2 linked regions of the Homo sapiens genome follow. The protein of the gene in region 1 purifies or fractionates together with the protein of each later gene. This does not show direct contact. Each region holds a gene or a part of one and is shown in the gene's direction. Other genes may lie near its edges.

Region 1 (3,747 bases):
GTAATGCTGGAGAACTACAGCAACCTCACTTCACTGGGTAAGGCCAGTGCCATTTCTCCACTTATTCATCCATGAATTAGATGTTTTTGTTTGAGTATGTTCTGTGACCCAGGAACTATGCAGCGGTTCAGAACGCAGCTGTGAACAAGCAGCCCCAGCACCCATGCTTAATGGGGCCTCTCCTGGGTATCGAGGCCCATCTATTGCAGGGACCATGGTGGTTCTCCGGTGTGTGTCTGAGCTTGGCATGGGCTTCTGAAATACGAAATCCCCATTCTTTTGGAGGGTCAGTGTGTGGGTACTTGTGATCTTATTTCCTATTTCTTTTTTTTTTTTTTTTTTTTTATTTTTGGTGATGAAGGGTTCTCACTATGTTGCCCAGACTGATCTTGAACTCCTGGCTACAGGCACGAGCCACCATGCTTTGCCTGTGGTTTTGTTTTCTATCAGTCAAAAACTTTTACTGTGTTCCTTAGAAATTTTGGCACCACCATTTTGCTGCTCCTAAGTCAGACTTGTCCACCCTCAGAACACTGAAGACCCAAGTGTTGAGCCCAGGCTACTGGAAGGGGTTGTCCTCTGCATGGCCCTCCCTCAACCTGTGTCTTTCCCGTGAGTGTAGGGTATCAGGTCGGCAAACCCAGCCTCATCTCACACTTGGAGCAGGAGGAGGAGCCGAGGACAGAGGAGAGGGGCGCTCACCAGGGCGCTTGTGCAGGTGAGCGAGCCCCAGGCAAAGAGCGGTGCTGTGACTCTACCTCTATTCAGTGACTGGGGTGGAGGGAGGTAGGTTAGGGAGTGTCACCCAGGGAAATTGAGAGATGCTCCTTCCCTCTTTTTGCCCATCCATTCTCTGACAAATCTTTTGGTCCACACACTCCTTCATCTTTGACTTTCACATTCCCATTATTGGGCTCTTTGTCCCATTCTTTCATATTTGATGTTTCTGATCATCCGCTTTCTGTCATTATCAACATCATCTGAATTGCCTTAAATTTCTTTTTTCTTTTTTTTTTTTTTTTTTTTTTTTTTTTGACGGAGTCTCACTCTGTTGCCAGGCTGGAGTGCAGTGGCATGATCTCGGCTCACTGCAACCTCTGCCTCCCAAGTAGCTGGGACTACAGGCATGATGCCGCCATGCCTACCTAATTTTAGTATTATTAGTAGACATGGGTTTCACCATGTTGTCCAGGCTGGTCTCGAACACCTGACCTCAGGTGATCCACCCACCTCGGCCTCCCAGAGTGCTGGGATTACAGGCGTGAGCCACTGCACCAGGCCTGAATTGACTTAAATTTCTACCCCTGGCATTGCCAAATATCTCACATGACCAGATTTTTTAACAATTGCTTTTGCACCACTTTTCCTTACATAGCCTTAGGATCTGCCAAGAAATCCACCTGTCATTGTCACCATCATCCCACCATTTTCCTTTTCCAACAATTAATACTTTTCCAATTTGTTTCAGATTGGGAGACTCCATCTAAAACCAAGTGGTCACTTCTTATGGAAGATATTTTTGGGAAGGAAACGCCCAGTGGTGTGACGATGGTAAGATTTCCGTGGGATAATTCTGGATCTTCCTTCCACGTCTGAGGAGACTGGGGCAGCCTAGGTTAGAAAAGCAGTTCAACACCAGGGCAAGCAGCTTCCCTCAGAGGAGACTGTGTTTCAGAGACACTGGGTATTACCAAGATGGAGACAACCCTAAAGCTAACCTCAAGCTACTTTACCTAGAGTGTCTCTGAGTGAAGATTTTTATAGCTGTGTCTCAGATATTGAGTGTTGGGGCTCAATGCAGTTTTTGTTTTATTTTATATTTATGCTGTACACTTACTTATCAATTTAGTTTTGGTGGTGTTTATTTTTTGGGGGGCAGACAGTCTTGCTCTTGTTGCCCAGTGCAGTGGGCAACATCTTGGCTCACTGCAACCTCTGCCTCCCAGGCTCAAGCCATCCTCCCACCTCAGCCTCCTGAGCAGCTGGGACTATAGGCGTGTGCCACCACACTTGGCTGATTTTTCTATTTTTTGCAGAGACAGGATTTCACCATGTTGCCCAGGCTGGTCTTGAACTCCTGGAGATCCATCAGCCTCGGTCTCCCAAAGTGCTGGGATTATAGGCTTGAGCCACCATGCCCAGCCTCAATTCAGTGGTTTTTGTTTGTTTGTTTTTGTTGTTGTTTTTGTTTTTTGTTTTTTTTTTTGAGGCACAGTCTTGCTCTTGTCACCCAGGCTGGAGTGCAATGGCACGATCTCAGCTCACTGCAGCCTCCACCTTTCAGGCTCAAGTGATTCTCCTGTCCCACCCTCCCGAGTAGCTGGGATTACAGGTGTGCACCACCATGCCCAGCTAATTTTTGTATTTTTAGTAGAGACAGCGTTTCACCATGTTAGCCAGGCTGGTCTCGAACTCCTGACCTCAGGTGGTCCACCCGCCTTGGCCTTCCAGAGTGCTGGGATGACAGGCGTGAGCCACCTTGCCCAGCCTCAATTCAGTTTTAAGCAGTGAAGAAATGCTATATGCAAAAAGCTTTGAAAAAGTAACACATGTGGAGCCTTGTGGCCTGGCATTCACCTATTGTCCTTGATGGAGCTCAAATGGGGCAGGGACAGCACGTTTGCACGGCAGATGGTTACAGCTCTAGTCATAGTAATGTGCTTCTATCTGTTCATAGCAGTGTATGTGGGGATGACGCTTAGGGTTGCAATGAATATGAGAATTGCCTTTGTCAGCACTTACGTCTTAACCAACAGGAAAGAGCCGGTCTTGGAGAGAAGTCCACTGAATACGCTCACTTGTTCGAAGTCTTTGGCATGGACCCTCATCTCACTCAGCCAATGGGAAGGCACGCTGGCAAGAGGCCCTATCACCGCCGCGACTATGGGGTAGCGTTCAAGGGCAGGCCGCACCTCACTCAGCACATGAGCATGTACGACGGGAGAAAAATGCATGAATGTCATCAGTGCCAAAAAGCCTTCACCACGAGCGCGTCCCTCACACGGCACAGGAGAATCCACACCGGGGAGAAGCCTTACGAGTGCAGCGACTGCGGGAAAGCCTTCAACGACCCTTCAGCCCTTAGGAGCCACGCAAGAACTCACCTCAAAGAGAAGCCCTTTGACTGCAGTCAGTGTGGAAATGCATTCCGGACCCTCTCGGCCCTGAAAATCCACATGCGAGTTCACACTGGCGAGAGGCCTTACAAGTGTGATCAGTGCGGGAAGGCTTACGGCCGGAGCTGCCACCTCATCGCACACAAGAGAACGCACACCGGAGAGAGGCCCTACGAGTGTCACGACTGTGGGAAAGCTTTCCAGCACCCCTCCCACCTCAAAGAGCACGTGAGGAATCACACGGGGGAGAAGCCCTACGCGTGCACGCAGTGCGGCAAAGCCTTCCGCTGGAAGTCCAACTTTAATTTGCACAAGAAGAACCACATGGTGGAGAAGACCTACGAATGTAAAGAATGCGGGAAATCCTTTGGCGATCTCGTGTCCCGGAGGAAACACATGAGGATTCACATCGTCAAGAAACCCGTGGAATGTCGGCAGTGCGGGAAGACCTTCCGAAACCAGTCCATCCTTAAGACTCACATGAACTCTCACACTGGAGAGAAACCATACGGGTGCGATCTCTGCGGGAAAGCTTTCAGCGCGAGTTCAAACCTCACCGCACACAGGAAGATACACACGCAAGAGAGACGCTACGAATGCGCCGCCTGCGGGAAAGTCTTCGGTGACTATT
Region 2 (3,747 bases), on another chromosome or scaffold:
CTTTGTCTCAAAAAAAAAAAAAAAAGAAAAAGAAAGTGATAAATACTATGGGGCTGGGCGCGATGGCTCACGCCTGTAATCCCAGCACTTTGGGAGGCCAAGATGGGTGGATCACAAGGTCAGGAGATTGAGACCATCCTGGGTAACACGGTGAAACCCCGTCTCTACTAAAAATACAAAAAATTAGCCGAGCGTGGTGGCACGCGCCTGTAGTCCCAGCTACTCGGGAGGCTGAGGCAGGAGAATCACTTGAACCCGGGAGGCGGAGGTTGCAGTGAGCCTAGATCACACCACCGCACTCCAGCCTGGGCGACAGAGCAAGACTCCATCAAAAAAAATAAAAAATAAAAGAAATGCTATGGAAGAAGTAATAGAATATGCTATGGGAGAGTTTGGAAGAGAAATACACATAGAGTTATACTAATAACCAAAATCCTTTATTGACCATTTATCATGTGCTTGGCACAATTAGCTTAATCCTGAGTCTTAATTGTCAGGATCTTACATTATAAGATAGACAAAAATTCAACGCATGCTTTACTAAGTACCGTTTGTATCAGTGGGTAAAGCACTGTGTTTGGTACTCTCTCAAATGCAAAGATGATTACGACACATGTACTATCGTTTATGAATGGGTGGCCAACAGAACAGATTGCCGCATAGGTAAGCAGAAATCTGCTCTCATTCTCTATTGGCCACAAGCAGGCATGTCTTAGGAGCAGAAGGGTAGGAAGATCTCTAACTGTGCTTGGAAACTTGGGGAGTTACCACGTCTGGCTAAAGTGGTATTGTCTTAAGGAAAACCTATGAATTTGCCTGCGTTGGCTTGGTGCTGAGGAAAGTGGAAGAGAGAGGCTGGGGTACACCTTTCAACATGAATGGAACTGACCACTGGAGGGAAAGAACAAGAAACAGCAGTGAGAACAAGGAACAAAGACCATCCAGCCCCTCACCCACCTGGGGGGAAGTGAGGGGAGATGGGCAGGGTGACAACGTGGCCAACATCTAAAGTGTGAAGAGGGGCTTTTACCAAGTGCCCACCCCTTCCCGAGCAGGGGGCAACCAACAGCATCTGGCGGGTCTTACTACTGGGCAGAGGCAGGGGAACCCTGGTATGAGTTCTGGATTACATAGGAGATGTGACTTGGACACGTTTGGGGCTTAAAAGTAGGAAGGGATCAAGGGGGGAGATTTGAAAATCCCGGTGGAGGTGCGAGGTATCCGGGGAGAGGGTAAAAACGGGAACAGTCTTCAGCACCTGCCTGTACCAGGAGCTCTGTGTATGCCATCTCATTTCCGTCTCCAGCAACCAGGCGGGCCTTGGCGGCAGGAGGCACAGGCTTTGGGAGCAGAGGCCCTGCAGCTTGCCAAGCACACACGGCCCTAGGGCGCCCAGCTGAGACGGCACCTTGGCACCCGGGCCCGCTGCAGCCCGCTCCGGTCAGCTGCACCCCAGTCAGGAGCCTTTCCAGCGGGTCGGAGGAGAACGGAAGTTTGGGGAGACCCGCGCGATTCGCCTGGCTGCATTTTACATTTCTTTCTCCGGCAGCTGGGGTCACGAAGGCTGCTCTCGCCGGCGGTGTTGGAACGTGGACACGTGCGCTTTGGTAATAGGGCAGCCTCCCCCGCGGGCGCAGTCCCCGCTGCGAGCGCCCCCGGCTGCTGAGGCGGGACCGAGGACCCGGAGATTTGAGCCGCGGGTGGGCGGGGAGGGGCCTTTGTGACCTGCCCGCCCCTCCCCGGCACTGTGATGCCGGGGGGCAGCTGCGGGCCCGGCGCGCCTGTCCCCGGCGTCCCCCCCTCCCGGTGTGTCACAACGGCGGAGGCGGCTGTATCTGGAGCAGTCGGGGCGGGCAGGCCCAGCTGAGAGGTGCGCGGGCGAGGACAGCGGCAGCGATGGTGAGGCTTCCCGGGGCCAGGCGGGCTGCGGGCGCGCGGCAGGCGTAGGACCGAGAGCCGAGTCTACGCGGAGGCGCACGGACCCGTCTTCCTGGAGCCGCAGGGCTCAAGGCCTTCTGGGGGTGGCAGTTCAGGGTCGAGGAGTCCGCACCCTCGGGCGGGAACACCCGGTGCCCTTTATCGTATGGGGGAAATAGAGACCAGGGGCCAGTTGTTCCTTAAAGGGACCTAAGGGAGCTTTGCGTGCAGACGAGGGGGAGGGAGGCCCTGGGGAGCCCGACGGAGAAGGGGGCGAGATTCTGGGGTCCCCAGATGGGCAGCCTGTGGACAGAGTGGAGAGAAGGGCGAGTCCGGGGATTCTGGATGGGTGGTCTGGGCCGGGGCGACTGGGGGGCCAGATGCAGTCACGTCTCCGAACCCAGCCTAATGTGACAGGGCCCGGAATGTGACAGAGGACCTAGGGCGCCACGGTCCCCCCACGCGTGGAGGTCTTTCTCGCAAGCCTGGCCAGCGGCTTGGGTTTGCTGCACGCACAGCCCCAGCGCGGCGGGGTCCTCCGGGCGCACTCAGCAGCTCCCAAGTCTTTCCAGCGGTCAGAGTCGAAGGACTTTGGGAGTAAGAAGTCTCTGCTTCCAAAGGCCAGGGGACCTTCGACCTGTTTCCTACCCTGGCTTAGGGGGATCGCGGCTGCTCCCTTCCCTGCCCCCGCCCCTGGATCTTACTGAGGGGCGGCTGCAAACACTCAGTTCCTCTTTCTAGGGTCCCCCTCTCCGCCCCCAGTGCCCCTGGTGGTTAACATTTGCCCCCAGTCCACTTTCCCAAAGCCCAGAATCCCAGGAATCCCTCCTGGACCCCTGATCTTTCAGCAGTAGGGAGATGGGCTGGAAAGATTGGGGGCAGAGTGAGGGCAGAATAAGCCTATGTCATGGCCAAGGTCGGGTTCCCTGGGCAGGCTTGCTCCAGGTGTCAGTGATCCAGAAAGCAGGCGAGAACCCCCTCCGCCCCGCCCTGTTACGTTTGGCCCGTGCCCAGGGCCTCCTGGCTCCCCCGGAGCTCTAGCCTTCCAGCTTCAGTTTTGTCAGCACCCTCCCTCCTCCTAGCGGGCTCCCAGACACCCCTGGGAACTGAAAGAACTTGGGAATATTAGGGAGGGTGGCCACAGGAACCTATTTCTGCCTGAGGACCCTGGTATGAGGCCACACAAAGGGCCCGGAGCTGCCAGTTCAGAATTTTGACTCCTGGCTCTGCAGCTAGCTGTGTGACTTCAGGAAGGTCACTTAACCTCTCTGGATGTGTTTGTTTTACCTGCGAAATGAAGAGGGTTATAATTCAAATTTCCAAGACTCCACTTAGATTTCATTATTTTTAAACTTTTTATGGTAGGGAATTTCAAACATATGCAAACGGAGAGCAAATGGTATAATTAGCGATTATATACATCATCTAAGTTCAATAATTACCAACTTCTGACCTGTCTCACTTCATTTATTCCCTCCCTCCATAATTTTGAAGCAAATGCTAGGCTGCATACTCTAGAATTGATATTTAATATTTATAATATCTAGCAGGTAGCTAGTGTTTTAGGATTTTCCAAGTGCTTCCCTTGCATGCTTTAATTTGGATCTGAATGCCATTGTGGTACAGAGTGGAGCCCAGAGGATGTTTACAGGGGCGTGTCGAGGATCTTAACCCAGCCCTGTGCACAAGCTTGAATGTGTGATCCACAGACGTGTTTCTGACAATGCCTGGTAAATCAACAATTCAAACAGCAAAACTTTATTTTGAACGTGCTTAAGAATTTGGGTGTTTAGCTGAAAACCTATGGTTAAATATTTTGAAATGCGACCA

What was found.
Region 2: the proteins of ZNF317 (region 1) and TUBA8 purify together in Homo sapiens (affinity purification with mass spectrometry; 2 studies listed by BioGRID and IntAct, with this or other methods). This does not show direct contact.

Annotation. Positions count from the first base shown.
Region 1 is NC_000019.10:9,157,358-9,161,104, forward strand, and holds part of ZNF317 (zinc finger protein 317), read left to right. Parts: coding exon 1-37; intron 38-476; exon of another isoform or gene 477-622; coding exon 623-718; intron 719-1,468; coding exon 1,469-1,551; intron 1,552-2,756; coding exon 2,757-3,747. UniProt on the Homo sapiens protein: May function as a transcription factor. May play an important role in erythroid maturation and lymphoid proliferation.
Region 2 is NC_000022.11:18,108,970-18,112,716, forward strand, and holds the start of TUBA8 (tubulin alpha-8 chain), read left to right. Parts: upstream 1-1,839; 5' UTR 1,840-1,896; coding exon 1,897-1,899; intron 1,900-3,747.